3 separate regions of the Homo sapiens genome follow, and regions 1 and 2 are each linked to region 3. Evidence: fine-mapped expression QTL. A gene starts in region 3. Each other region holds a variant in brackets. All regions are shown on one strand. Distances are from middle to middle. Region 1 overlaps FGD3 (FYVE, RhoGEF and PH domain containing 3). Region 2 holds the start of ZNF484 (zinc finger protein 484). Region 3 holds the start of SUSD3 (sushi domain containing 3).

Region 1 (10,058 bases), 40 kb before region 3:
CTGTAAAATGAAGATAACAATGGCACTCACCTCACTAGGTGAGTTAAAACATGTATCATGTAGAACAGCACATGGCTCACAGCAATGGTTAGCTCTGTTCCTGTTTATCGTTGTTTTTATGCTCTGCATGGTGAACTCCTATTCATCCTTCAATACCCAACTCAAACATCACTCTGTTTTCCCTCCCACCCTTGTCAGTAGCTCATTGCCCTCTCTGGATTCTGGGCCACGGTTGCAGGGAAGGACTCCGTGCATCTCTAGGTCACCAGCCACTCTCACAGACCTTTGGTGCCTGAGTCCCATGTCTCTTGCAGGAGAAAATGCACAAGCTCTTGGAGGTGTACGAGCAGCTGGGTGGGGAAGAAGACATTGTCAACCCGGCCAATGAACTGATCAAGGAGGGCCAAATCCAGAAACTGTCAGCCAAGAACGGCACCCCCCAGGACCGCCACCTCTTCCTGGTGAGCCTGGCCCCTGCCAGCCCAGCCGCAGAGCCTCCCTTGCCATTTGCCTCAAGCCCAGGGCAGTGCCAGGAGGGCTCTGGCTGCCCAAGGACATGGCTCTTCTGTGGCCTCTCCTACTGGGACTGTGGCTCCCTCTGAGACCCTCAGCATCCCTCCCCCAGCCATAGGGAGCCTCCCTCCTCCACATCCAGACACCAAACTTTTGCCAGTGGCTCTTCCCCATTTGCTGCAAATATCTCATTTTTTAATCCCTCGTAGCCCATACCTCTTTCGTCCCCAGAACTGAGCAGACTTCAGCTTGTAGCAACCAGGACAGCACAGAGAACTGTAGCAGTGAATCACAGTTTCAACTATTCCTGAGCCAAACCCTGGCCGGGAGGGAGGGGGAAGGTGGGATGGAAGTGTAATTCGAGACCCCCCCGGGTGCCATGGCGCGGTAGAAACAGATGTGGTTCTTCTTTCCTCCTCCATTTTCCTCTAGCTTCTGATTCTCCTTGAATAAACAATTATTTCTTTGAAAGGTTTTTTTTTAAGTTTTTAAAAATTACGTTAACTAAAACTCATTTTTGCTTTACAGTTCTGAGTTTTGACTAATACAGTTGTGACCACAATCAAGTTACAGAACAAGTTTTTTTTGTTTGTTTTTGTTTTTGTTTTTAAGACAGAGTCTCGCTCTGTCACCCAGGCTGGAGTACAGTGGCTCAATCTCGGCTCACTGTAACCTCCACCTCCCAGGTTCAAGCAATTGTCCTGCCTCAGCCTCCTGAGTAGCTGGGATTACAGGCGTGCGCCACCACGCCCGGCTAATTTTTGTATTTTTAGTAGAGATGGGGTTTCACCATGTTTATCAGTCTGGTCTCGAGCTCCTGACCTCAGGTGATCCACCCACCCAAAGTGCTGGGATTACAGGCGTGAGCCACCTCACCTGGCCAAGTTACAATTTGATCACTGCCCCCGCCCACCCCCCCAGTTCCCTTGTCCCACCCCTTTGTGAGCAAGCGCTCGCCTGCCCTGGCAACCATGGATCTCTTCTCTGTTTCTAGAATTTTGCCTTTCCCAAATGTCACATCAATGCCATGAGATGAGTCTGGCTCCTTTAGCTCACCATGTGGGTTTGAGAGATTCATCCATGTTGGTGAATGTATCAGTAGCTCATTCAAAAGATTTGGTTTGGCTGGACGTGGTGGCTCATACCTGTAATCCCAGCACTTTGGGAGGCTGAGGTGGGCGGATCACCTGAGGTCAGGACTTTGAGACCAGCCTGGCCAACATGGCGAAACCCCATCTCTACTAAAAATGCAAAAATTAGCTGGGCGTGGTAGCACCCGCCTGTAATTCCAGCTACTCGGGAGGCTGAGGCAGGAGAAGCTCTTAAACACGGGAGACGGAGTTTGCAGTGAGCCAAGATTGCGCCATTGCACTTCAGACTGGGCAACGAGAGCAAGACTCCATCTCAAAAAAATAAAAAAAGGTTTTTTTTTAAATTATACAATTAGCTCATGTTCATGGTTTAAAAATTTAAAAATAGAAATGAACAAAAATAAAGCTAGCGACTAGAGTCTCCTCACTCAAAGATGTAACCATAGTTAAAATTACTGCACATATCTTTTAAAAATATTTTTCACTTTATAACATTAAAAAAAAATGAAAAGGATCCCATGTGAGAAGCTCACTGGGGCCCCTGGGGGGACCTGCGGGCAGCTCTCGTTCCTCACCTGTGCCATCCCTCTTGCAGTTCAACAGCATGATCCTTTACTGTGTGCCCAAGCTGCGGCTCATGGGCCAGAAGTTCAGCGTCCGGGAGAAGATGGACATCTCAGGCCTCCAGGTGGGTGAGCTCCTCCATCTCAAACCTGTCCCCCTGGAAGGGGCACTGAGCAGGACTGGGGACACCAGGCTCTGGCCGCTGAGGCACTCACCTCTGTGCAGCCTGGCACCCCTACCTGCTTTTCCAAGCCATAGACCCTATCTGTGACCAAGGCATTGTCTCAGTCCTGGTGCCCCAGGCTGGAAGGGCAGGATTCCACCCTTCTCTGCTTGGCCCACCTGCCACGTTGCTGCCAACTCCCCTTTCTGCAGAGCCTTGGAGGATGCAGGGGGCAGTAGGGATGGCACCAGGACCTGGACTGAATCCTGTCACCTGTGAGACTGGGACTCGGGGCCCTATTTACAAACCCAAACATGAAGCCCAGGGTTGCAGGGAGCAATCCTGGCTGGGGCGGGGGCCGGCTTCCCTTGTCTGGTTCCTGGGTCCTGAGCTCTTTCCTGTCCTCCTGCACCGGAGCCGGGGGGAGGGTTCCAGGCAGATCTGTAGCATGGTCCAGAATGACCTTCTTTTTTTTTTTTTTTTTTTTTTGAGACGGAGTCTCGCTGTCACCCAGGCTGGAGTGCAATGGCATGATCGTGGCTCACTGCAACCTCCACCTCCTGGGTTCAAGGGATTCTCCTGCCTCACCCTCCTGTGTAGCTGCGATTACAGGTGTGTGCCACCACACCCAGCTAATTTTTGTATTTTTAGTAGAGAAGGGGTTTTGCCATGTTTGCCAGGCTGGTCTCGAACTCCTGACTTCGTGATCCACCCGCCTTGGCCTCCCAAAGTGCTGGGATTACAGGCATGAGCCACCGCACCCAGCCTAGTCAGTCATTATTTTTAATGGTATTTCTTAACCTGGAGTGCAATGGTGTGATCTCGGCTCACTGCGACCTCCACCTCCTAGGTTCAAGGGATTCTCCTGCTTCACCCTCCAGAATAGCTGTGATTACAGGTGCGCGCCACCACGCCCAGCTAATTTTTGTATTTTTAGTAGAGACGGGGTTTCACCATGTGGTCAGGCTGGTCTCAAACTCCTGACCTCGTGATCCACCTGCCTCGGCCTCCCAAAGTGCTGGGATTACAGGCATCAGCCACCGTGCCCAGCCATGACCGATTTTTTGTAGAGAAACACTAGAAAAGTGGTTTCTTCTAACTACTATAAAAAGCTGGGCACGTAGTTTCGCTGGCTCACGCCTACAATCCTAGTACTTTGGGAGGCTGAGGTAGGAGGATCACTTGAACCCAGGAGTTCGGGACCAGCCTGGGCAATGTAGTGAAACCGTGTCTCTATAAAAAATAAAAAATTAGCCAGGCATGGTGGCGCACATCTCTATTCCCAGCTACTTGGGAGGCTGAGGTGGGAGAATTGCTTGAGCCCAGGAGGTCAAGGCTGCAGTGAGCTATGATTGTGCCACTCACAGTGCTCCAGCTTGGCTGACAGGACAAGACCCTGTCTCAAAAATAATTTTAAAAATAATAATGAAACAACCTTAAAAAAAGGTATTTTCTCTAGTTAGTGTTTTTTTTCTTAACCTGAATTCAGAGAATTTCAAGGTAAGAAGGGATTTTTGGTGGCATTAAGCAAATGATTACATATTTTGATTTAGCAAATATTTTTGGAGCACCCATTAATTCAAAGCCCTCCCGACAGGGGACAGGGACCCATTCCAGTCCCCCAACTACCCCACTGCAATGAGACATGGAACAGGCGTGAGCTACTGCGCCCGGCCATGGTCTCTGTGGTCTTATCCTGATGGAAGAGGATGGAATCTGTGGCTGCGGTTCTATGAAGAAGTGACCCCATTTTCATTAGTTCTGGGCACACATTGTCCTATTTACATGTCTAATCTCAGGGCGCACCTGCTCAGGGGCTCAGACTCTGCAGGGTGGCTAAGGCCATCCTTGCTCTTCTCATCAGATCCCTTTCCATCCTAAGGGGACGTGGCTGCTGTGGCGGGCAGTGCCCAGTGGTGCCTGTGGGGAATGGCTTGGCTTTAAGGAGGATGGATGGGGCGACATGGGGAGGATGCCTGACGGGCTGGGTGTCGGGGGGGTGGGTTTGGTCAGCAGAGTTCCAAGCACAGAAGATGAGCGGTCATAGCTGTGTCTGAGCAGGATGGGAGGCCCGCTGTCCCTGATGGACCAGCTCATGTAGCAGCCACGCTGACCTAAGCCTCTGCACCCCTCTCCCTGCAGAACTGTGGGGCTGCAGGCTCACCTCTGTTACCTCCTTGGGGAAACACTTCTAAGTCAGAAAACATGAGGCTGGAGCTAAAATGACCAGCTTGGGTTTGCTTTGTTCTTTGTTCTTGCCCCTTCAGGTGCAGGATATCGTCAAGCCAAACACAGCACATACATTCATCATAACAGGAAGAAAAAGGTCCCTGGAGCTGCAGACGCGGTATGGAACGGGCTGTTTCTAGTGAATGTCTTTGACCTCATGTCTTCTTTTTCTAAACTGGTTAACCTTGTAATATATTTTTATTTATGCATGGCTTAAAATTTAAAAGTACTGTTACTGAAGCACCAGGGTTCCGTCTATGTCCTGCGCTTGCTGCACAGAAAGCCAATCACTGAGATGATTATTGCCAAGGAAGAAGCTTTAATTGGCCGAGGAGATGGGAACTCAGTCTCAAATCCATCTCCCTGACCAACTAAAACTAGGGGCATACACAGCAGGGAATAAATGTAACAATGTGTAAGAAAACAGGAACTAGGGAGGGGCAAGGAAGCAATCATGATGAATAAAGGGTCTGGGCATCTCATTGTCTGGATGTGGTGACCTGGTGAGTTTCAGTCCCTTGATGGTTTTTTTGAGAGGCCTGAAGGTGTTTTCTGAGGAAGGAACTCAGATAAAACAAATGTTAACTTTCAAGCTTTAAGACCAGAAGGGTCAATTTGTATGTTTATCAGATAAACTATCTATGGGACTCGGGGCGGTTT[T/C]AGTACCAAGGGAAGTTGATGAAAATTAAGCCTCTGCCCACCTCCTGTTCAGCAGGCCCAGCACGTTCTTAGTCCTCTCTTGAGTATCCTACGATTTTCTTTTCTTTTTTTTGAGACGGAGTTTCGCTCCCAGGCTGGAGTGCAGTGGCACAATCTCGGCTCACTGCAACCTCCACCTCCCAGGTTCAAGTGATTCTCCTGCCTCAGCCTCCTGGGTAGTTGGGATTACAGGCACCCGCCACCACGCCAGGCTAATTTTTTGTTTGAGTGAAAACCCAACGGGGTTTCACCATGTTGCCCAGGCTGGTCTCGAACTCTTGACCTCAGGTGATCCACACCCCCTCGGCCTCCCAAAGTGCTGGGATTACAGGTGTGAGCCACCGTGCCCAGCCCCTTCTAGGATTTTCTATGCACATGCACATATATCTATGTTTTAAATCACAGATGGCTGTTTACTGTATAACCTGTCCTGCACCTTGCTTTTTCACTTAATTTGTCAAGAATCATCCCATATCTGCACACCATTCCTAAAGCAACACAATTTTCCATTATGATCATTAGCTAGTTCCCACTGACGAGGACCTGCGCTCCTCCCGAACCTGGCCATCACAAATGCGGCTGCAAGCAGTGTCCTTGTTTTTAGGTGTTTCTGCATATGTGTAATTGTAGCCGTCAGATTGCTGACATAGATTTGCTGGTCACAGGGTAGTGCATCTGTTTGAAATGTTGGTGGCTGTTGTCACACTACCCTTTAAGGTGATGTCAGGCTGTGCTCTGACTAGCCATACATGGGAGTTCTGTTCTCCCACACCCCACCAACAGTGGGATCTTCATAATGACCCATTATGGTCCAAGGAGGCATTGAATTACAGCCACTGCAGAGGGCTCCACATGGCTCACCTGGCCCCACCAGGCCACGAGTGTTTTGAGGCCCTTGGGGCCAATCTTCCAATCCTTGAGCTGCGTTGACAAGCCAGTGCGTGGCTCGGGTGTGCTGCAGGGTTGAGAGAGGGCTGGTCATTTAGAGTCAGTATCCAAGACTGGATTAATACAAGACCGTTTTGGTTTTTTAGGACAGAGGAAGAGAAGAAAGAATGGATTCAGGTGAAGCTTCTAAAGTTGTAAAGTAACCAAATGACCAAGTGATTGAGCAGTAAGGCCATTCATGTTGGTTCAGAGGGTGGGGGCCCTGGCCTCCGGGACTGCTGGCCCTGTGCTGTACCCTGCAGGGATGCAGTGACCACACTGTGCCTTCATAAGCAGCTTCAGATGCCACAAGCCCTTCAACCCATTCATTTCTTTGAGGGCCCCCAAATAAACATGAGCGGGCCTGGTGGAGTCACAGGCCAGGTTCCCCGCTCAGGGTGGATCTCCTCAATCTGGACAGCTCCAAGGGGAGACCACATCATTGGTAGGGGGGAAGGGAGATGGCCAGTGGCCTGGGCATTGTTCTGGGAACGCCAAGGCCCGTCCTCGGGACAGAGGCAGGCGCGTCCCTCCTGTGGGTAGCATCCTCCCATGCCCCTTTATAGTCCTCACTGTTGTGTTGCTGTGTCCAGATCATCCAGGCCACCATCGAGAAGCACAAACAGAACAGCGAAACCTTCAAGGCTTTTGGTGGCGCCTTCAGCCAGGATGAGGACCCCAGCCTCTCTCCAGACATGCCTGTGAGTCAGTGGCCCGGGGTGCAGAGAGACCTCCAGGGGACGGGCTACCTGTGGAGAGCAGAAGGCACTGGCGTCTGGGTGGGCAGCTTGACCTCCAGGCTTTCCTCCTGCTACACCAGGGACCAGGACAGCGGGCACTCCCTTGTGTTAAAATAAAAACTTAAGACAAATTAAATTTAACAATTTAATTGAGCAAACAACTATTTGTGGATGGGATAACACCCACCCCCTACAACCCCTGAGACCAGAATAGGTCCAGAGAGCCTCCTGTGCTGCTGTGTGGTTGGAGAGGATTTATGGACAGAAAAAGGAAAGTGAGGCACAGAAACAGCTGGGTTGGTTACAGTTCCGCGTTTGCCTTATTTGAACATGGTTTGAACAGTCGGCCACCTTTCCATGGCAGCTTTAGGCTGAACTTAATTTCACCCCTACCCACCCTCCACTAAGTGCCGCTGCAGCCTGCTGGGCCCCAGGCCCGTGGTCAGCGCCCAGCTGGGCGGGAAAGCAGGATGTGGGCGTGGAGGAAGCGCTCCTTCATGACCTGTTTGGTTGTCTGGTGCCTTCTGCACAGCATCCTACACACAAAGGTATGTTACATCATCCCCACAGAAACTGAGTCTGAGGAGCTCTGTGACGTCCCCAGGCCATGGGTGGTGGAACTGGCATCACAGGGCTGTGGTGCGCTGCCCGCGTACCACTCTGTCTGGTCTAGCACAGCCTATGACTGCAGACACCTTTCTGTGTTTGTATTTCCCTCCCAGTGCCCCCGTGCCCTGGGAGATGGTGGCTCAGAGCCCCTTGAGGGAAGCAATAGGAGCATCTCACTCCCCATCCTCACGTGGAGCTGCCCCAAGGGCCCAGGGGGATTTCACATGGAGACTTAGGCTGGGAAAGAGGCGGGGCTGCAGGGTCCTTGCCGAGAAGCCTGGCCAGGGAGTCAGGGCTGCAGCCCCAGGGCCAATCCCCGGCCATTTCTCCTCCCGGGGCTTCCCTGGAGTCAGGGAGAGAGGATTGGGTGAGGAGGCCGATCTCTGCCCGCTGCGAGGAAGGCCCTGGAGTCACTGGCCCTGGACAAGGCATAGGGGTTGGAAGTGTAGCAAGGACATATCCAGGGAGGCACCCAGGAGAGACGGTGCCCTGAACCCTATGCCAGGCCCTCTGCTCCAGCCTTCACGGGGGCACCAGGCATGACTCAGAGTGAGGGTGCCCCAACTCTCGCCGCCTGACCCAGACCCCGCAGGCCTGAATCCCAACTCCAGGCTGGTTCTGCCCTCCCTACCACCTCCAGGGGTCTGCCTGGCACAGCCCACCTCCCCCATATCCACTTCATATTTGTATCAAGTCCGCTAGGTTTTTTCTGCTTTCTGCATTTACTTTGCAAGAACTTTGCACCATCCAGAAAGAAAGAGTCCTGGGACTGCCTTGAGTGGAGGTGACCTGGGAATGTGAGACACTGAGCCTGGCTGTCCTTAAGTCTGGCCAAGCCCTTTCTGTTCAGAGGCTGAGCCCGGAGCCTCACTGTGCTGAGAAAGTCGGGGAGCTGCAGAGACTCCACAAGGAACCCTGGAGGATGAGAGAGAACCCAAAGGGACCCTCCTTACTCACTGGGTGACTTGGTGTAAATTAGAGCCCCTGAATAGGGCGGGCCAGAGGGAGGCATCACCCACCAGCCACCCACCTCACTGGGAGATGCTCCTTCTAGGAGAGGCCTCCAGCTCAGGCCAGGCCCAGGGAGGGAGCAGCTTCCCCAGAGGCACAGCAAATCCTAGGCCTGGGAAATCCTGCTCCCGAGCCTGCCCTCAATGCACAGAGGTGCTGGGGGCTTCAGGAACTGTCCCCCCGCTGCACAGTGGCTGCGTGGCCCTGGAATCTCCTCTCACTCGGCCTCTGTGTCCCTTCTAGATCACGAGCACCAGCCCTGTGGAGCCTGTGGTGACCACCGAAGGCAGTTCGGGTGCAGCAGGGGTAAGTGCCCCATGCTCAGCGGTCAGCAGGGGTGAAAGGCAGAGCAGGGGGTCAGACCAGGATGACCTATAGGGAAGATGGAGAGGGAGGGTCAGACCAGGGCCTCCTGGAGGCGGAGGGCTGAGGGGCCAGTCTGCCCTGCTCACTGTGACTGGGGGCCTGGGTGTGCGGAGGTGAAGCTATGTCTGAGTCCAGGCACTGATGAATTGTGTGGTCACTGCAGGGGACTCTGTAAGGTGGGCACGCAGAGGCCTGTCAGTGTGGGGATGTCCATTACCTGGTTGGAGGTGGTCACACAGCTGGGCACACATGTGAGAATCTTCTGAGCTCCAAGTGAACATTTATGCTCTTAACATGTGTGAATCGTCCCATAAAGCATGTATTAACAGTGCAAGGTCCTTAGGAGGCTCGGTAATGCAGAGGACTGCTTAGTTCTTCACCCCAAGCAGCGGCCAGGGAGGCCTAAGCCTCCCTGCCTCTCCCCGTCTGTGTTCTCGTGTGCCTTATGGCAGCCAGCCCACAAGGGTGCTGCTCCGGCCAGGCAGACTGTGTCCACGCGCCCGCCTGCCAGGGGATAGGGAACTGGGATAAGGCCTGCCTCCCTCCGTTTAATCTGGGAAGTTAAAGAGGATGAGGGCCAAGAGCATCTGTACCTGGAGCCATCATCATTGGTGCCCAGGCCTGGCACTCACCAACGCTGACAGCAACATCACCGTGGAGCACCCCGATGTGGCTGCTGTGCCCAGATGCAGGAGGGTGATTCTCCAGGTGCCTCGCCTCACCCCATGCTGTGCAGGCCCAGGAATGACATGGCCCCAGATGGCTGCCCTAGCCCCATCCAAGACGGGTCTTTCCAGGTGGGCTGGCCGCTGGCTGCCCCCTCCCATGACCTGAGCTTTACCAGGCCCCACCCATCATGATCTGGGCTGGCCGGGCACTGGGAAACCATGAAGAAACTCAGGAGGCCTCGGGAAAGATGTAGTGCTTCAGGGGCACGACGGAGTGTGGAGGCGTGGGGGGCTTGCACATACATCCCAACGGGCAAGAGGAGAGACCCCAGATTCACAAAGCGCAGCCACCTGGCCTCTGCAGAGCAGACAGGCACCCTGCAGGGACATCTTATTAACACTGAAACGAGGAAGTCTGACACGGGGTGGGCAGCTTGGGGGAAAGTGGTGCCCTGGCCTCCTAGGAGAGAATCTCCTC
Region 2 (10,058 bases), 180 kb before region 3:
TAGTCTGGATATGAAAGAGAACAAAATGGAAATGGAAACATGCAATTCTATGTAATATATTCTTTAAATCTTTAGCAAAATATATCATTATAATGAAACAGAAACGAAAATATAAACAGATCGGTACGTATAAAAGAGAGGAAACTAATTAAGATGTGCATCATTCACACTCCTCAGATCCCTCCTTAGTTCCCATAGTCATCCTCCCCCACAACCCCACAGTCCGCCCTCACTCCGCCCTCAGATCCACCACCAGACAGAGACCCCCAGTCCGTCCTCACTCCGCCTGCAGATCCACCACCAGAGACCCCTCAGTGCCCCCTCACTCCTCCCTCAGATCCACCATCAGAGATCGCTCCGACTTCCACTATTCCATCCACTGACCGACCCCATCACTGACCGGAAGGCTCAGGACAGACATCAGAGATTCTTCTTGCTCAGTCCACAGATGCTGCCATCCCTCTACTCACCTGCCCCTCACCCACGTCCTCTCAGGACAGTGGTCATTTGCCTCGGGAGGTGACTATAGTCGCAAGAACCAGAACAGGACCCACTTCCTTTTTCTCAATGCCTCCCAGGCCTAGAGGTACTTCTTACAGCGCTGCCTGGGTTTGCGCATGCTCAGCAGTCTTCATGGCCTGAAGGTTGCCAGTAATCAACATGGCGCTTTGCCAAACACGCTCCCGTTTCAGCGGCTTAGGCTGGGCGCCAGTATGGCGGCGCCCATGTAGACACTCTGGCCTGTGGGCGGCCATGTTGAGGTCATGTAGAGACTGAGAGGCTGAGGGTTGTCCAAAGGAAAGGAAGCAAGCAGAGGTGTGTCCCATCATACTAAGCCAGGACACAATCAAAGCCTATCACCTCAGGTTACAGTCTTTCTCCAATGCTTCTGTGGACACAACAACACTGTTAATCAACAGGAACTAATCAGCATTTATGTAACACCGCAAACGCAGCCGAATACACATTTTATTCGTGTCGATGGGACATTTAGCAAGATATGAAGTAACCTGGGTCATAAAACAAATCTCAGCAAATTTGAAACAACTGAAATCATACAGTTTGTTCTCTGAACACAATAGAATTAAACTAGAAATCAATAACAGGAAGATAAAAGGAAAATCTCCAAACACGTGAAAACACATGCTAAATAATCCATTGTTCAGAGAGAAAGTCTCAAATTTTTAAAATACATTGAAATGAATGAAAGTGAAAGTGAATGAATTTTTAAAATACATTGAAATGAATGACAGTGAAACACAACATATCAAAATTTGTGGGATGTGGCTAAATCAGTGGTGAGAGAAAAATGTATATACCACTAAGGGCTTACATTAGAAAAGAAAAAAATTTCAAAGCAATAACCAAGCTCCCTCACATACTAGAAAAAGAAGAGCAAAATAAACCGAAGGCAAGTGAAAGAAAGGAAATAATAAGGATAAGAAGATGACTCAATAAAATGTAAAAAGAAAAATAGAGAAAAACCGATTAAACAAAAGCTGGTTCTGTAAATGTTAATAAAATTGACAAATCTGTAGAGGAGACACAAAATATCAATATCCAGAATGAAACAGGAGATACCACTGTAGACCATGACGAAATCAAAAGAATAAAGAGAATACTACAAACAACTCTACAAACATAAATTTCACAACATAGATGAAATGCACTAATTCTTGAAAAAGCACAAATTCTCTCTTACATGAAATAGTTATGTTGAATAGCCCTAGAACTGAAGTCATAATTTGAAATATCTGAAAAAGAAATCTTAAGGCCTGGATAGCTAGATCAGAGAATTCTAACAAACATTTAAAGGTTAACACGAATTATATCCAGTCTCTTCCAGAATAAAAAAAGAATAGAAAGAAGACAATAGAAAGATATTCCAACTCATGAGGCCAGTGTTACTCTGATATCAGAGCTAAAGACAGAAGAAGAAGAAATCAGTATTCTTCATGAATATAGATGGAAAAATTCTCAACCAAATAATAGCAAAAATAATTCAACAATATATAAAAATAACTACAAACCATGAACAAGTGATATTTATTCCAGGAATAAAAAGCTGTTTTGGTATTCAAAAATCAATTTGTGTAACCCCCCACATTAGCAAGCTAAAGATAAGCATATTACATGATTATATCAATGCAGGAAAAGAATTTGAGAAAATTCAACACCCATTTATAATGAAAAAAAAACTTTCAGGAATTAGGAACAGAGGTAAACTTTCTAACTTTTAAGTTAGAAAAAAATCTACAGCTAATGTCAAACTAAAAGATGAAAAAGACTGAATGCTTTCCTGTTCAGTTTGGGAAGAAGGAAAATATGTCTGTGCTCATCATTTTTATTCTACACAGTTCTGGAAGACCCAGTCAGCTGACAAAAATTCTCTCCATAACCAGACTCTAGCCATGCTCCTTTGAACTCTCTTGTCAACTAAACCCTGGCTTTTGGGCTTTTGTGTTGTCTGTGAATTGCCCAATATTAGTAAGAATCCTAGCAAGGCAATTTAGTCAGAATCCTCCATCTTCGTATCTGATCACCATTGATATCTAATTGGTTTTCTTATTGTCTACTATCCCCAGGTGATATCTGATCACTCTGGCATGGCTTCAGCAAGAATTCTGTGAGGTCAGTTTAGCCAGATTCCCTCCTATTAGTAATTTTCCGTACACTACCACCCCTCCACCCTGCTCTGTGGCTATAAAATTTCTATTCAGAGGGAAACCTGAATATATGGAAACTGGAGATTACTGCAAGACCCTATTGCAGTAATCTCTATATCTATTGCAATAATCCCTCTGAATAAAGTTTGTCTTACTATTTTTTAACAGGTGTCACGAATAGTTTTTTCTATGATACAGCTCAACAAAACAAGTCTGAAATAGAAGAATAAAGTGGGAGGAATTATTCTACCCAATTTTTTAACTTTTTACGTAGCTACAGAAATCAAGACAGTGTGGTATTGGCAGGGGTATAGACAGTTCAATAAAACAGAATTGAGAACTCAGAAATATTTCCATACAAGTACAACCAACTGACTTTTGAAAAAGATGCAATATCAATTCAATGGTACAGTGGTTCTGGAGCAGTTAGATACCATAGACAAAACAATGAACCTCAATCTAACCTCATGTCTTTATTTAAAAAAAAAAGGATCAGCCAGGCGTGGTGGCTCACGCCTGTAATCCCAGCACTTTGGGAGGCCAAGGCGGGTGGATCACGAGGTCAGGAGATCGAGACCATCCTGGCTAACAAGGTGAAACCCCGTCTCTACTAAAAATACAAAAAAATTAACTGGGCGTGGTGGCAGGTGCCTGTAGTCCCAGCTACTGGGGAGGCTGAGAGAGGAGAATGGCGTGAGCCCAGGAGGTGGAGCTTGCAGTGAGCTGAGATGGTGCCACTGCACTCCAGCCTGGGTGACAGAGAGAGACTCCCTCTCAAAAAAAGAAAAAAAAAGATCATAGATCTCAATGTAAAAATATGAAATTTAATGATAAATTCTTCAGGTCCTAGGACTTGATGAATAATTATTAGACATGACACCAGAAAAGCACAATTAATTATAAGAATTTATTAATTGGATGTTATCAAAATTTAAAACTTTTGCCCTGCATAAGAGCCTGTTAATAAAAAGACAAGGTAAAAACTGGGAGAAAACTGCAAACCACACCTGATAAACCATATCTGACAAAGAGGTCATATCTAGAATATTGTTTAAAGTTTTCAAAAGTCAACAACAACAACAAGGAAAAACAATCCAATTAGAAAATGGGCTAAAGGCATGAACAGATATTTCACTGAACAGGATATATTGATGGAAAATGAGAAAATAAAATAACTTTTATCAGAGGAATGTCAGTCCTTTTAAATTATCAAGCCCAGAGAGACGTTAAAATAAGACAGCAGGCCCCATGCGGTGGCTCATGCCTGTAATCTCAGCACTTTAGGAGGCCAAGGCGGGCGGATCACGAGGTCAGGAGATCCAGACCATCCTGGCTAACACGGTGAAACCCCGTTTCTACTAAAAATACAAAAAATTAGCCAGGCACGGTGGCAGATGCCTGTAGTCCCAGCTACTCCGGAGGCTGAGGCAGGAGAATGGCGTGAACCCAGGAGGCAGAGCTTGCAGTGAGCCAAGAGCGCGCCACTGCACTCCAGCCTGGGCGACAGAGTGAGACTCTGTCTCAAAAAAAAAAAAGGAAAACTGCATGTCCTGCACATGTACCCCTGAACTTAAAATAAACACATAAGTACATAAATAGAATTTAAAAAAATCTTAATTGTATGTGGGTAGGTCCCTTTGATTGAAAGTGAGATAGAAGGCTGGGCGCAGTGGCTCACGCCTGTAATCCCAGCACTTTGGGAGGCAGAGGCGGGCGGATCACGAGGTCAGGAGATCAAGACCATCCTGGCTAACACGGGGAAACCCCGTCTCTACTAAAAATACAAAAAGAAATTAGTCAGGCGTGGTGGCGGCGGACGCCTGTAGTCCCAGCTACTCAGAAGGCTGAGACAGGAGAATGGCTTGAACCCGGGATGTGGAGCTTGCAGTGAGCCGAGATCAGGCCACTGCACTCCAGCCTGGGCGACAGAGAGAGACTCCTCAAAAAAAAAAAAAAAAAAAAAAAAAAAGGAAAGTGAGATAGAAATAATTTTTTTAAAACTTACTATTCAAAATTTGCAAAACTAAATAAGAGTAAAAGAACTTTACATTTTGTCCCTGGATTGATATAAGACAAAAACATTGTGTGGGAAAGCTGGAGTTGAGGACAAATGAGATTCTGAGAATAAAAATCCCTGGTACATAGCCAAAATTTCAGAGTCAACTTCAGATTTTCAAGGGCCATAAAATAGGTAACCTCAAGCCACCAACTCCAACAGATAAAAGGAACCAGGTAATATGTGTTCCAGGGAGAAAGAATAGAAAATTGGCTGAGTTCTATCACTGACAAAACTTAGCGGGAAGGAGAGATCTGGAAGGTGGGAAGGTGGAGGGATCCCCGGCTTGGGGGGTGGGGAGGGGCTGTGCTTCGGTCTCCCCCTCCTACTGCCCCTCCCCAACAAAGGAGCCCTTTGTGATGTGAAGGCCCAGCTCTGTGATGCAGGCCTGGGCCCCAGTCCCTAGCCTCCA[C/T]GGGGATGCCCAGAGCTCAGTTGCTTGAAAGCAATGCACCTATTCACATGGAGAATCTTCCCTTTCCTCTAAAATTACTTAGTCCCTCATCGCTAAACACCCCCAGCTCCACACCATGGGTGTTGGATATCTTCCTCACCTTGGTGTTTGCCCTGGGGTTCTTCTTCCTATTACTCCCCTACTTATCTTACCTCCATTGTGACGATCCACCCTCACCATCGCCTGGGAAGAGAAAGGTAAGGAGCCCTCAGTCCAGACCCACAGAGCTTGATTCTCTCCTTCCTTTTTATTATTAGTTCCACTTTTCCAAATCCAGTGGAGGGACTTCTGCGATGGGAAGTCTCAGGAGAGACCGGAACATCATGCTTCCAGGGAGAGGCAGGGCAGCCAGGGGTTGGTAGGGGTAGATTGTGTACAGGGATTTCCATCCCAAGCCCTCAGTCCATCTGTTGGGGAGCGCAGGAGGCGTGAAGGCAAAATCAAACCCGTGGGCTCAGCGGCCAGGAATGGTCATGAGACGGGGGAGGTCTCTGGTCATGAGACAGGGGAGGTCTCTGTCCGAGGCCAGGCCCTAAGCCCTGGCTCATCAGCCCCTTCCTGGGGCAGGTGGCTTGGGGCCCAACCTCCTCTGTGTGGGGTGATATGGGGCCTGTGCTGGGCCCCCAAGGGCCTCCCACCGGGGCCTGGCATCTCCTCTTGTCTCCTGGGAAGCAGAATCCTACCTGACAGCTCAGTGGTGCCTGTGGGCCTGAGCCTGGGTGTTCCAGGAGCAGAGGAACAGGGACTGATGGCGTCCATGGTGGACCTCATATTGAAAATCCCTCTGTGTGTGTCTGTGTGTGTGTGTGTGTTATTTTTATTTATTTTATTTTATTTTATTTTTTGAGATGGAGTCTCACTCTGTTGCGCAGGCTGCAGTGAAATGGAGCGATATCTGCTCACTGCAACCTTTGCTTCCAGAGTTCAAGCTATTCTCCTGTCTTAGCGTCCTGAGTAGCTGGGGATTACAGGTGCCCGCCACCACACCTGGCTAGTTTTTGTATTTTTAGTAGAGACAGGGTTCCACCATGGCCAGGCTGGTCTCAAACTCCTGACCTCAGGTGATCCACCCACCTCGGCCTCACAAAGTGCTCGGATTATAGGCATGAGCCACCGTGCCTGGCCCCCTCTTCCTGTTTTTCTAAGAAGAAAAGCAGTTTATCATCCATTTAAACATGAATGGGAGGAAGCACACAGAGCTCCCTGAGCAAGACAGAGAGAGCCATGCGGTTCATGAGTGCAGAGTGCTGCGGCTGGGCTGGGGGTGGAGAGGGAGAGCCGGTCCTAGCTCCTCGCCATTTCTTGTCTCCCAGTGTCATCTTGTCTCCTCGCGTCATCTTGTCTCCCAGTGTCCAGTAGGGCAGAGGGGGATGCCCAGAGGCAGGATGAAAAACCACAGTCTTCAGAGGTAAGGCTCTGCCAGGGCACACTAGAGTTAATTTGATCTCGTCTGTCCCTGAGGGAACTGACTCTGAAGAAGTCAGTTGAAGAAGCCTGAGGTGGGGGCTCCTAGGAAGGAAATCAGAACCCCGGGTCCTTCTCAGATTCCATGCCGGAATGAAGCCATGGTGGGCCAGGGACTGAGCGTTACCCAGCAGGGGGCAGTGTGTGTGTTCTGGGGAGACCAATGCCTGCCTGGATGCGGAGGGGGTTGAGGGGGCCTCCCGCTCCCTGGGAACAGCTGTTCAACTCTGCTAAGGCTGATTCCTCTTTGAGACCACCCCAGTCCTTTCTCCACACAGGGCAGTTGTGAGGACTATGGGGGTGGGGGGCCTGTTTGTGGAAGCCCTTTGTGAATGACAAAGCCCTGTCCTCCATGCCTTGCTATTACCATCGGGGCCATGTGGCTTTGGACACAGATGGGTGGGTTCCAGGGTCTAATTCCCCATGGTCTTCCCTGAAGAAACATACACTCAGCCTCCTGTGAGATCCCAGGCCCCTCCCTCACTGCCCTAACCCGGTCTGATTTCCAGCTTGTAGAGAGTGCCTGAGAGGCCTGGAGGAGACTTGGGACCTGCTTTCACAACTGCAGAGGTGAGGCACTTCCCCTTCCCTGCATCCTTCCTACCAGGGCTGGGATGCGACCTCAGGGCCATAGGCAGCCTGGAGCTGACCTGGGATGGGGAGACCAGGGGGACAGAGGATGAGAGTAAAGGCCTGGGGCAAGGGGTAGCAGGAGAATTGGGCAGTCAGGGTGTGGGGTGGTGGAGGGGCTGTGGCCCGAGCGCCCACTCTGACCTCCGAATCCACCTGCTCCTGGCTGCAGCTTGTGCCTCCTGTCTCCTGCAGCCTCCTAGGGCCACACCTTGAAAAAGGTGACTTTGGTCAGCTCTCCGGTCCAGACTCCCCAGGTGAGGTGGGCAAAAGAGCACCTGATGGAGCCTCCCGGTCCTCTCATGAGCCTATAGAAGATGCTGCTCCCATTCTCTCCCTGTTAGCTTCCCCGGATCCTTGAACCAAGCATCCTCAGGATCTGGCCTCCACCCCACCACCAGGCCCAATGACCACCTCAGTCTCCTCCCTAAGTGCCTCCCAGCCACCAGAACCTTCCCTTCTCCTAGAACATCCCTCACCCGAGCCACCTGCACTTTTCCCTCACCCACCACGCACTCCTGATCCTCTGGCCTGCTCTCCGCCTCCTCCAAAAGGCTTCACTGCTCCTCCCCTGTGGGACTCCACTCTGATAACTCCATCTAACTGTGACTCAGTGGCACTTCCACTGGACACTGTCCCTCAAAGCTTGACTCCACGTGAGGATTTGGCAGCTTCTGTCCCAGCCATCTCAGGTCTTGGCGGCTCAAATAGTCAAGTTTCTGCCTTCTCCTGGTGGCAGGAGACTACCAGAACCTGGTGCGTCTTCAATTCGTCAGTCCAGCAAGATCATCTTTCCCGCCACCCACCAGAGACCTGTCAGATGGAAGCTGGTAGACCATTTTTGCTCAGCTCTGATGGCCAGGATGTCGTGGGGATACAAGTCACAGAAATCAACATTTGAGAGGAAAAAGAAAATGATGGACGATTTCCAAAACAGCCCACAAAAGCACTTGAATGCTTTGGGGAATTTGGTTAAATCACTGGATGCTGAGCAGGACACCACAAGCCCAAAACCCTTCTGGAACATGGGAGAGAACTCAAAATAGCTGCCCAGTCCTCAGAAGCTCTCAGATCCTAGGCTCTTGCAGGAAAGTTTTCAGAAGAATTATAGCCAGCTTTTCTGGGGCCTCCCCTCTCTGCACAGTGAATCTCTGGTGGCTAATGCCTGGGTCACTGACTGTATGTAAGGGTCTTACATCCTTACATCAATGAAATGTCCAATGTCTGCCCAATTCAAAGGGAGACTACAATGTCCCCACTGCTTTTCCAGGCCCAGCCCCTGTCCCATCTGGGGCCTGAGTCCCAACCCTTTATTTCATCCACACCCCAATTCCGGCCCACACCTATGGCTCAGGCCCATCTTCAATCCTCTTTCCCAGTCCTATCTCCTGCTTTTCCATCCCCGATGAAGAACACTGGAGTAGCTTGCCCTGCGTCGCAGAATAAAGTGCAAGCTCTCTCCCTACCTGAAACTCAGCACCCTGAATGGCCTTTGTTGAGGAAACAACTATAAGGTGGGTTGGCTTTACCCCCTAGGGTCCAAAAATCTCAGGACATCTTTAGTGTCTCCACTCCTAACCTTCCCCAGGAAAGGGGACACCCATTCTGCCTGAGAACTTTCCAGTCAGTCCTGAACTCCAGAGCAACATATTGAAAAGTGGTTCATTCAACACCAGGGCAAGATTCAAGAGTCTCTGGATCTGATGCAGCTTTGGGATGAATTGCCAGGGAAAAGTCAGGCGAAGGGCAAACCCAGGTCCTGGCAGTCCTCCATGTCCACAGGTGAAAGCAGCAAGGAGGCACAGAAGGTGAAGTTCCAGCTAGAGAGGGACCTGTGCCCACATCTGGGGCAAATTCTGGGTGAGGCCCCGCAAAATCTATCCAGGGGCATAGAAAGCTTCCCAGGGAAGACTCTGGGGGTGACCTCTGAAGAGTCAGAAAGGAACTTGAGGAAGCCCTTGAGGAGTGACTCGGTAGGGATTTATTAAGACTCACGGACAGGAATCATATAGAAAACATCCTGAAAGCCCACATGGGTAAGAGGTTGGGCCAGACCAACGAGGGCTTGATCCCCGTGAGTATGCATCGATCCTGGCTTGCTGTCAACCAGGCTCTTCCCGTGTCCAACACCCACATGAAAACCAGCAATCTAGCACCCCCCAAAAGTGGGAAAGCCTGTGTGAACACAGCCCAGGTGCTTTCCTTCCTTGAGCCATGTACTCAACAGGTGCTGGGAGCCCACATTTTGAGGTTTTGGGCCAAACACAGGTGGGGTCCACCCCTCAGGGTCCTCAAGCCCATTCAGTGCTTTAAACTGGTTTCATCCTTGTGCAATACACAGCTTGCCGGTCCCTCCTCAGCCACCTGTGAATCTGGGGCTGGCTCAAAAGTTGAGGTGGCCACGTTCCTTAGAAAGCCACCAATGGCAAGTCTGAGAAAGCAGGTGCTGACCAAAGCATCTGTTCACATGCCAGAGAGGCTTCAGGCCTCCTCACCTGCATGTAAGCAGTTCCAGAGGGCCCCACGAAGGATCCCATCTTGGAATGATCATGGGTCCTTGAAGGCTCCTACAGCTGGACAGGAGGGCAGGTGGCCATCTAAGCCCCTCACATACAGCCTCACAGGCAGCACCCAGCAGAGCAGGAGCTTAGGAGCCCAATCTTCAAGGGCGGGAGAGACCAGGGAGGCAGTGCCACAACCCAGAGTCCCCTTGGCAACCTGTATGTTGGCAAACATCCAAACCACAAGTGAGGATGTGCGTGGTTTCGAGGCTCCAGGGGCCAGCAAAAGC
Region 3 (10,058 bases):
CCTGAAATCCTATGCTTGGTTGTAACTCCTTAGAGCATGGTAATGCCGTGTAATCCTAGCAGCCGAGGACCCAGGTCAGTCCACATCTTTCCCGACAAGTGAACATCAGAATGGCCGTGGGAAATTTTGCAATAGTTTACATTTACAAAGCATTTAAAATCCTTGTTTCTTATCAGAGAATAGATACATGCTCATTGTGGAAAATTCAGAAAGTACAAAAAGAGTTGAGGGGTGGGAAAAAAGATGACCTGCTATCTGCCAGCCCAGTGGTGGCCAGGTAAAGGCCTTGGTGTGCAGGATGAGCATGGGGGGAGCAGCCCCTGGCCAGAGTTTGTCCCTCCTAGGCCCAGCTGTATCCCAGCTTCTAAACTGGCCTGGCATGCAGTAGGTGTTTGGTAGTAGCTGTTCCATGAATCTGTCATTCCTTCTGCCCTCTGGGCGCCTTGCTTTGTGTCTCTGCATCACCATTTCTGAACCTGAGGGCGGCAGCTCGATGTCATGTCACCCAGGCTGACTGATCTGCTTGTGCAGGCTGCAGCCAGGTAGGACAGTCTGGTGGTCACAGCTCAGGCCCCAGCAGGGGAGTACCCCCGGGGAGGGGCCTTTGTCGCTCTGCACAGTGGGGACAGGGCTCTTGCCTTGCTTTAGGAGGATAAGTGGTGGGTGTTGAGGGCTCCAGATGGCCCAGCAGAAAACATTTTTGGGAAAATTGTTTTCTCTGCAAACATCTGGCCTGCTAGAGCTTCAAGGTCAGGTTACTTTTTTTTTTTCTTTTTTTGCTTTTAGTTTTTAAAAGGTAATACAGTTTTTAAAAAGAGAGGACACCCATGAGGCCACCAATGCTTCCCTGACTCTTACCTTTTGCAAAAGAACTTTCTGGACGTGGTCTATTGTGAGAGGTTTTCAGAACAAAAATCTCATTTTTCTATTGAGTAAAAACTAAAATCAAGAATAAAGCAAAACAGGCTGGGCGCAGTGGCTCACACTTGTAATCCCAGCACTTTGAGAGGCCAGGGAGGGTGCATCACCTGAGGTCAGGAGCTCAAGACCACTCTGACCAACATGGTGAAACCCTGTTTCTACTAAAAATACAAAAATTAACTGGGCGTGGTGGTGCATGCCTGTAATCCCAGCTACTTGGAAGTCTGAGGCAGGAGAATTGCATGTACCCAGGAGGTGGAGGTTGCAGTGAGCTGAACTCATGCCACTGCAATCCAGCCTGGGTGACAGAGCAAGACTTTGTCAAAAAAAAAAAAAAAAGGCAAAACAAACTGTTTTAGATTTCCACAATTATTATCTAATTTTAGAAAAACTCACCAAGCCAAGAACTCTGCCACCACCAGACTTCTGCATGGGTCCCCTCCCAGGCCACCATGGCCCATGGGTGCTGAGTCAGGCAAATCAAGGGTTGAGGAAGGCTTCCTGGGGGTGGCAACACCTCAGCTAAGGTCTGAGGAAAGAGGAAACTCCCAAGCCAGACCCTCACCTTCCTCTGGAAACCTCTGGCAGCGCACAAGACCCCCATGTTACAGAGTGGAACACTGAGCCCCAGGGCTGGCAGGCCTCCCCTGCCTCCCAGGTTCCATCCAACAAGTGTCCACTGACAGTGCACTGTGTGCTCCCAGTTGCAAATGGAGCTGGGAAGAGGCTGTGGCTTTGGTCAGTTCCTCAGGCTGTGCCTGACTCTGCTTCCTTCTCCCGGCCTGCCTCACCAGCAGCCAGCAGCCCATCCGTTCCTCCTAGCCTCCTCCCCTGCCTCCTCCAGCAGGGAAGCCCATATGTTTTGCGTTTTTTTTTTTTTTTTTTTTTTTTTTGAGACACAGTTTCCCTTTGTCACCCAGGCTGGAGTGCAGTGGTGCAATCTCAGATCACTGCAACCTCCGCCTCCTAGGTTCAAGCAATTCTCGTGCCTCGGCCTCCCAAGTAGCTGGGATTACAGGTGTGTCTGACCTCAAGTGATCCTCTCGGCCATATCCGGCCACATGTCCATAGCTCCACACCTGGCCACATGTCCTCTTCATTTCAGAGACGTGACACAGGCTGAGCAGGCCTTAAGGACAGGCAGCACGAAATGGCTCTGACAGGGAGTGCCATCAGGGAGGGCTCCATGGAGAAGGAGGGTGAGGAAGGCAAGGAGACACACCCAAGCAGGCAGAGCCTAAGCACTGCTCCCAGTTTGTGCCTAGACTTGGAGAGTCTGGGAAACCAGGCAACTAGGACAGCTGAGCGGGTGGGCCAAGCTCAAAAGCTGACGGGCCTTCACAGTCCAGCTTAGAGGCCACCACTCCATCCTGAGCACATCACAGTCTCTCACTTGCCTTGAGAGGGTGGCAGGACAATGTCCACCCCTCAGATGAGAACACGAAGACTCAGTGCAAGGGTGCCCACCCCTGCCCCAGGGATCAGGGAAGCCTGTCAGAGAGCCATGGTTCTCACCATGGAAGGGGGCACCCCAGGCGGTTGTCCCTAGTGGGCCAGTGCCGTTCTTTTCACATGCCTCAGTTTCGCCCACGTGCATGGCTAGAATAGCTGGGCTTTCTAGGAGCAAACCATTCCAAGGGCCTGGGAAAAGGTGGACAAGATGGCCCTGATCAGTGTTCAAATAGGTGACAGGCCCACCTCCAGAACCAGCCTCAGATCCCTCCCATAGCTCCTGAAGATGGCCTTTTGGCAGCAAATGGGTGTTCTGAGCCACAGCAAGGCATACAGTTCCCTGTGGAAACGACATGACAGAGGTCCTTAGGCCACCTCCAGGTCCCCTAACAGTACAAATGGAGGCCCAGCGCCACAAGCCTGAATGTCCACAACCCAACCAAGCGACAGACTGCTCAGAAAAACATGCTCTTTCCTCCTTGATCCCACCTGTCAGGGGCTGAACTGTGTCCCCCAAAATCTATATGTTTAAGTCCTAACCCTCAGTACCTCCAAATATGACCTTATTTGGAGACAAGGTCTTTACAGACTCTTCTTTTTTTTTTTTTTTTTCTTGAGATGGTGTCTTGCTCTGTTGCCCAGGCTGGAGTGCAGTGGCACAATCTCAGCTCACCACAACCTCCGCCTCCCGGGTTCAAGTGATTCTCCTGCCTCAGCTTCCCAAGTAACTGGGACTACAGGCACGCGCCACCATGCCCAGCTAATTTTTGTATTTTTAGTAGAGACAGGGTTTCACCATGTTGGCCAGGCTGGTCGCAAACTCCTGACCTTATGATCCACCTGCCTCTGCCTCCCAATGTGCTGGGATTACAGGCGTGAGCCACTGAGCCTGGCCGGTCTTTACAGACTCTTTATAGGGTCTTAAGTTAAGATGAGGACATTACGGTGGGCTCTAATCTAATATGACTGGTGTCCTTAGAAGAGAGATTTGAACACAGAGAGACACAGGGAGAGCACCATGTGTAGACAGGAGTTAAGTTGCCACCGGCCAAGGAACTGCCAGAAGCTGGATGATACAAGGAAGGCTGTTCTCCTGGAGTTTTTGGAGGGACTGCAGGCCTGCCGACACCCTGATCTCAGACTTCTGGCCTCCTGAACCATAAGACAATAAATTTCTGTTGTTCTCAGGCACCCAGTCTGGGGTACTATGTTACACAGCTCTAGGAAACACACTTCCTAAATGGCCAGGTGTTTAGCATTTGAAGGCTCCTGAAGGCCTGGGTCACAGCGTGGTGGCTTAGGGAGCTGCAGGCAGCCTGGTGTTTTCCATCCCCACCTAGCTCCACCCAGCTATTGGAGGGCTGCCCCAGACCTCCCTCCCAGCCCTGTCCATGCACCTACAGGCAGTGGCCTTCTGCCTGGTGGTGCATGGTGGGCAAAACCAGGGAAGGGACCACACAGGCCTGAGAGGTGGGCTAGGGGCCACTTGGCAAGACATTCTGGGGTCCCAGAGTGTGGTCTGGAGTGGGCACTGCTGATGGCCCTGCCCTTCCCGACATGGCAGAAAGAATACACATGCTTGATTTTGAATAAAGGAGATTGAAGTAAGCCATCGTGTGTGACCCACAAGTCCAAGTGGGAAGAACATATCAGGGGTGACGCCAACCCTGATGGCGAAAGGGGGAGGGCCCCTCACGTTTCACACTGAACCTCAGCTTTGGAGGGCTCGGAAAGCAGAGACGGGGAGGGGCTGCCCTGCTGGAACCCTGCTTCATGGTCCACCTGAACATCCACACTCTTCACGGTCACCTGCCAGGCACTCTAGAGCCAGCCTGGCCCACCTGGGCCACCTTCTGCGCTCCTGGAGGCATGCCTAAGCCAGCCGCACTGGGCTTCTGCTGCCACACATTGCCAAACCAGGGCCTTTGCACCTGCTGTTCCCTCTGCCAGGATTGCCTTTGCCAGCTCCACAGGAATAGGCATGGCTCAGGTGGTCTCCCACAAGCAGCCCAAGATCCAGGATGTCTGAGGCCTGACACCACACCCAACCCTTTGGTGGCTGCCTGGGCAGGGGGCTAAGCCTGGGTTGGGTGGGGTCAGAGGGAGAGAAAGAGCCCGGATCACAGCTCTGGGCCTGCTGCAAGTGGAGCTGGGTGGGAAGGGGAAGCCAGGAGAAGGGAGGCCTCCAGGTGTGGTGGGCCCTGCAGACAGACCCCAGGGCTTTCCATCCTGTTTCCCCCAGCCGGGGGCCCCTCAGTGAGAACCGAAGACAACAAGGGCACCCAGACCTCAGTGTGCCTCAGACGGCCTGGCCCAGTGAGAGACAGGGAAAGAAGGCTGGGTCCACACAGGACTCTGGGGGTGAGTGGGTTACGGGAGGGGCGGGCCGGGGAGGCGTTTTGCTGTTTGCCCTTTGGTACCGGCCGAATCCGGCACCCTGAGAAGGCAAAATCCTGCTCAAAAAATAAAAACACAGAAGCACATGGAAAAACCACACTAGGAGTGAAGGTGAGAACAGGAAGGGATGGGGGAAGGGTGTTGGGCAGAGGTAGCCACGCGTGCAACGCCCCGGAGTAGCAACACTTTCCGCTCAGCCGGCTGCCTTGGCCCGCTGGGTATTTGGTCTCCCCAAGGGCCCCCGCCCACAGCCCCCGGCCGGACCTCGGCCCCAGTCCAACGTGTGGGCGTGGTCTGTAAGTTGCATGGAACCGCCCCTGGGCGGGCGTGGAGGGCGGGGCCTCCCCGCCCCTCACCCAGGCCCAGGCCCAGGCCCCGCCCCCACAAGCCGGGCTCACTCCCCTGGCAGACCCCGCCAAGCGCCTCGGAGCGCGCAGGATGCGCTGGGCGGCCGCCACCCTCCGTGGCAAGGCGAGGCCCCGGGGGCGGGCCGGGGTCACCACGCCTGCCCCAGGGAACCGCACAGGTGAGGGCTGGGGCCGAGTGGCCGCGTGCGGGGCTCTGCGCCCATTTCACAGACGGGAAAGCCGAGGGGAGGGGGTCGCGGGGCCGCACAGCCGTGGGTGGGGGCCACAGCAACGATCTGCCCCGAGGACGAACCTCCTCGACCCTCCGCCGGCCCAGCAGGCGCCCTAGCGGAGCCGAAGCCTGGCAGCGAGCAGTTCGAAACCAGGCGGCTGCACGCAGCAGCCCGCGCGCCCGTTCCCGAGTGGCCGCAGCGCCTTGGTCCCGGGCGTCTGCGGACAGCGCGGCCGGCCAAGCCTCTCCACGCCGCAGGCTCCGGGCCCCTCCGCGCCCCTCCCGGGGAAGTCGAAACCGGCCTCACCTGGCGGGCGGGTGGCGCGGGGGCGGGAGGGGGGAGCCGGGAGCCCTCTCTGCGCCTGAGGGAGGTGTCATCTTCACGATTCCTTGGTGACCAGCGCAGCTCCACTTTACAGATGGAGAAACTGAGCCTGCGAGAGGGGAGTGGCTGTCCGAGGTCACCCTGTAGCCAGGCTTGGGATCGCCTCGGCTGTCTCGGAGGAGGCTCAGAGGCCTTTGGAAGGAAGAGAAGCTGCTTTTTATTTTACTTTTAAGTGTTTGAATTCAAGAATGTGCTTAAAGAGTTGTCTGCTCCCGTGCCCAAGGCTCCGGGGTTCGAATGCTGGCCTTGCTCCTTGAATGATTCTAAAGTCTAACCCTTTTAGAAACGGAACCAAACCGGAACTCTGGGTCTCAGATATCCCAAAAGCTTACTTCCGCGGCCACTGCCCACGAACGTTAGGCCTGAGGGTTCTGGGCGTCTCAGGCGTTGCGGGGCTAAGGCTCTGCGCAGGAGGAAGCTGAGGCCCGGAGTGGGGTGGGCTGGACCAGGTCACACTGTCAGCCTGCAGCCCCAGGGAACTGGCAGGAAGGTGGCAGGAGAATGGCTTCCTCTCACAGTTGGGGAAACTGCGGCTCAGGGAGCTAATTCACCGAGCAGAGGTCCGCAGCTCAGCAAAGTGGGCGCTGAGACTTGTTCCTGGCGCTGGTGGATTTGGTTTATTTAGTTTGACTCTGGCAGCCTAATGTCCAGAGTCCCTAATTTGGTGTTGGGGTGATGAGCACTTTTGCTCCTGTGTTTGAGCAAGGCCTGCCCAGGGCCTGGTACTACCTGAGGAGCCCCTTCTACTGGCACAACAGCCTGGGGGCGTGGGTGCCAGTGCCCTTTGGATAGCCTTGACTTGCCCAAGGTCAGCCCAAGGCCAGGGAGTATCTGGAGGCTCTGGCATATTTGCATACAAAAGGCTGTTTGCCTTGGAATTTGTGCTGGGAATGGAGCTTAGTCTGGCACCCTGTGCTCTTGTTCATCCTGCCTGGCCCTGGCTCTGCCTCTGACCACCATGACCACTTCCCAGGCACTGGCCCCCTTGTTGGAGTTTTGGGTTAGGATCCCCCCTGTGACCTGGGGTGAGTCGCTGTACCTCTGTGCCTCAGTTTCCCCATGTGCCCCAGTTTCCCCACTGTATACCTGCCCCCAAGCTTGTGGACAGGCCCAGTGGAGCCCAGGGAGGGTACTTGTTCTGGTGCAGGGATGATGCCATCATCTGGACTCCATCACTCCCCTGCCATGTGACCTCAGTTTCTTGCTCTGTGAAATGTGCTGTGAAGTTAGAGGCTGGGGGGTTGGGAGCCTTTGGAGAGGATTTGACACTAAAACACCACTGACCAGGAGTGGTGGCTCATGCCTCTAATCCCACACTTTGGGAGGCTGAGGTGGGCGGATTGCTTGAGTCCAGGAGCTCGAAACCAACCTGGGTAACATAGCAAGACCCCGTATCTACAAAAAATGCAAAAAAAAAATTAGCTGAGCATGGTGGCATGCGCCTGTAGTCCCAGCTATTCGGGAGGCTGAAAGGTGGAAGGATTGCTTTCGTCCAGAGTTCGAGGCTACAGTGAGCTGTGATCACCTCACTGCACTCCACCCTGGGCAACAGAGCGAGATTCTGTCTCAAAACAAAACAAAAACCAAAAACATAGCACGGGGATGTGTGTTTTTCCCACCATCTTTAAAATGGGGCCATTACCACTGGTTTTCCTAGAGTAGATATGAAGAGCACAGTAGTGTGGACAGACTGATCTTCCTGAGAGGCAGGAAGTGGTCTTCCCTCATCTCCCATGAGCGCCCTGGGAGAAGGGCAGGGCGCGGGGGAGACTAGCTCAGAGTAGGAGTTTATCATGTTTGTTGTATGACTGGCCCCTGGCCCTGCTCCCAGGTCAGCCCCAGCACTCCCTGATCTGGGAGATTGTCCAGGAAAGCAGGGTTCCAGTGGCTGTAGGTAACCCCCCTGGCATCCGTGGAAGGGCCTTGGAGGAAGGGCCTGGAGAGGGGGTAGCAGGAGGCATGCTCTGCTGGTGCCTTCTTGGCTTCACCCCTGAACTCCTGCCCCAGAACTGGACTGTGTCCATTTTACAGAGGAGAAACTGAGACCCCGTGAATGCATGTGTAAATCAAAGCAAGGCAGACACACCCTGTGATGCCTGGCTATGGCCTCCTGCCACCCATTGGCATCGAAAGAGCTGCTGGTAGAAGGCATAGGTTCCCGGACCCTCGGTTTTCCACCAGGGATGTGGGAGTACATGTTCCTCATTTGGAATTAGCCCAGCTCTTTTATGGAGGATTGTGTGCTTTCCACATCCTGAGGCCACCCTGCTGCTCAGCCTGGAGATGGAAGGCAGAAGTGGCTCTGAAGCCTGTGCTCACCCTCCATGTGGAGATGGGCTCAGAGAGGGCAAGTGACTTACCTGAAGACACACAGCCAGGGCTGTGGGACACCCACATGTAGTGTTGGGGCCAGGCCTGTCCCCACTGCCAGGGTCTTGGGGGTCCTGTTCTCAAAGCACCTCTGTGTGCAAAAGTCACCCCCTTTAAACTCTGAGAAATTCCTCCTGAAGGTTCCTGTTTCACATTTGGGGGAACTGAGACCCAGATTGAGGTCACACAGGGACTCACTGGCAGGTGGGGATCGAGTCTAGGTGAGACTGGGTTCAGCAGCCTGCCTCTGTCACTCTCTCCCACAGCCTCAGCCAGCATAAAAGGGAACATAGTTACTTAATCCCACAGCAGGCGAGGTCAGGTTATAGGGGCTGTGTGGCGAATCCCAGGAGGGAGGATGGAGGGGCCGACCTGAGGTCCAAGGTTCCAGATAAAAGATTAACAAGTACGGATTGTTCTCAGACGCCCGGCTGGCCTCACAGGCTGGGAGGATGAGAATCCACCCGGTCAGGCTTGGCCCCCTCCGTACATAAGGCCAGGGAGGGAGGAAGCGCAGCTGCAGCAGGTGGCCAGGCAGAGGCGCAGGCGCGGCATGTGGGCTGAGGGCCGCTCAGGCATCACACAGGTGTGGCCCTGAGGTACCCATTGGTCCTCTCCACCTGCCCCTGAGCCGTGGGAGGGCCAGGCAGGGCCTCGTGTGTTTTTATTTTGTATCTTGTTTGCATCAAATCCGTTTTCTGTTGTTTTTCCCTCTTCTTTAAGATTTACATGCAAAGGGATCTAAAGGGTGCCAGGTAAGAAATGCCCCAGCACTAGGCTGGCAGACCAAGGGCAGCCACAACCATGGGCTGGGGAACAGCAGGTGGGTAGGATGGGGCTGGAGGGCAGGACGGATCCAGAGAGGCAAGGCCTCTGCCTCCAGCTTTAGGGAACAGACATCCTCAAAGACAGCTGGGGTGTGGGGTCCTCTGCAGGGGTGAGGCACAGGAGGGCCATCTGCAGGCAGCTGGGAGTTCATGAGTATTTGAAGCAGGGGAGGGGACAGGGGACAGATGGGATCTGCCTCTCATGCATCAGGCATGGGGAGGGGCTCAGGAGGTCAGTGAGGGGTGGCCCTGGGTCCCCTGGGAGTCCGGGAGTCTCTGTGTGAGCAGGACTTGGCTGTGCGGTGGTTAGAGACAAGGGTGATCCACCAGCTCCATCCTCATGCCTTGGTGATTTCTTGGAATGTCCCTGGGAGTTGGGTGCAGGTAGAGACTTTGTAGACCATAGCTCCTGGCACTGTGCTGCCTGCCTGCCCCATCCTGGCTGTGAGTTCGCTGTGAATCCTACGGAATCCTGGCTGTGAGTTCGCTGTGAATCCTATGGAAAGGGCTACCCCAAGGGGACAGGAGTCCAGCCTCCTACTCTTGGCACTGCCATCATGCAGCCAGGGGCCTTGGGCAGGTTTGTGGGCCTCAGTTTCCTCATCTGGAAAATGGAGCCAGCCCAGAGAAAGTGTTTCCTGGCCTCCCAGGCTCAGGAAAGGAGTACAGGAGACCCCACTGGGGCCTGGAGGGTTGAAGGTCCCCTGTATGCTGCAGACCTTGGGGATCAAGGGCTAAGGGCTGAAGTTTCCCTGTGTTCCATGGACCTTGGGGATTGAGGCCCAGGGCCCCAGTAGGGCTCATGTCCTGGGCTGCTCAAGCCCTGACCTAGGGAGTGATCCTGTGCACCAGATCCTGCTCCAAGATCTCCATAGGGCAGTCCTGCTCTTCCCAGACCCCAGGCGGGCAAGTCACCAGTTTTGCAGACGGGGAAGTTGAGGCTGAGCCAGGTGAGAAATTCAGGTCCAAGACCTGCTGCTGGGATGGGTCTTGTCAGGATCAGACCCCAGGAACCTACTGGTTAGCCCTCCAGGAAGCCTGCCCACCCAACTGGGGGCTAAGAGGGGGCATTGCCGGTCAGTGGCTTCTCTTTCTGTGGCCCCTGCAGCAAGAGAGGCCACAGGAAC

What was found. PIP is the estimated chance that this variant, and not a neighbour inherited with it, causes the effect.
Region 1: its variant is the best candidate, but not a certain one, in a credible set for the expression of SUSD3 in whole blood (INTERVAL, PIP 0.59).
Region 2: its variant is the best candidate, but not a certain one, in a credible set for the expression of SUSD3 in lung (GTEx, PIP 0.85).

The regions. Positions count from the first base shown.
Region 1 is chr9:93,013,538-93,023,595 of GRCh38, forward strand. It overlaps FGD3 (FYVE, RhoGEF and PH domain containing 3), which reads left to right. Exons shown (of 18, transcript NM_001083536.2): 9 at 315-461; 10 at 2,200-2,292; 11 at 4,599-4,678; 12 at 6,294-6,324; 13 at 6,780-6,887; 14 at 8,790-8,852. LOC101927954 (a long non-coding RNA gene) reads right to left here and starts at 1,407. Exons shown (of 3, transcript NR_121565.1): 1 at 1,390-1,407; 2 at 1-957. RefSeq lists a silencer at 1,799-2,035 and an enhancer at 8,333-9,233. The variant T/C (reference allele first, on the strand shown) is at 5,221.
Region 2 is chr9:92,877,420-92,887,477 of GRCh38, forward strand. It overlaps ZNF484 (zinc finger protein 484), which reads right to left and starts at 619. Exons shown (of 5, transcript NM_031486.4): 1 at 471-619. It also overlaps the pseudogene SPATA31B2P. RefSeq lists enhancers at 374-909, 423-862, 5,198-5,715, 5,716-6,232. The variant C/T (reference allele first, on the strand shown) is at 5,135.
Region 3 is chr9:93,053,535-93,063,592 of GRCh38, forward strand. It overlaps SUSD3 (sushi domain containing 3), which reads left to right and starts at 5,167. Exons shown (of 5, transcript NM_145006.4): 1 at 5,167-5,296. The coding sequence starts at 5,209. RefSeq lists silencers at 4,882-5,331, 5,342-5,751 and enhancers at 5,262-6,242, 6,243-7,223, 7,292-7,341, 8,732-9,299.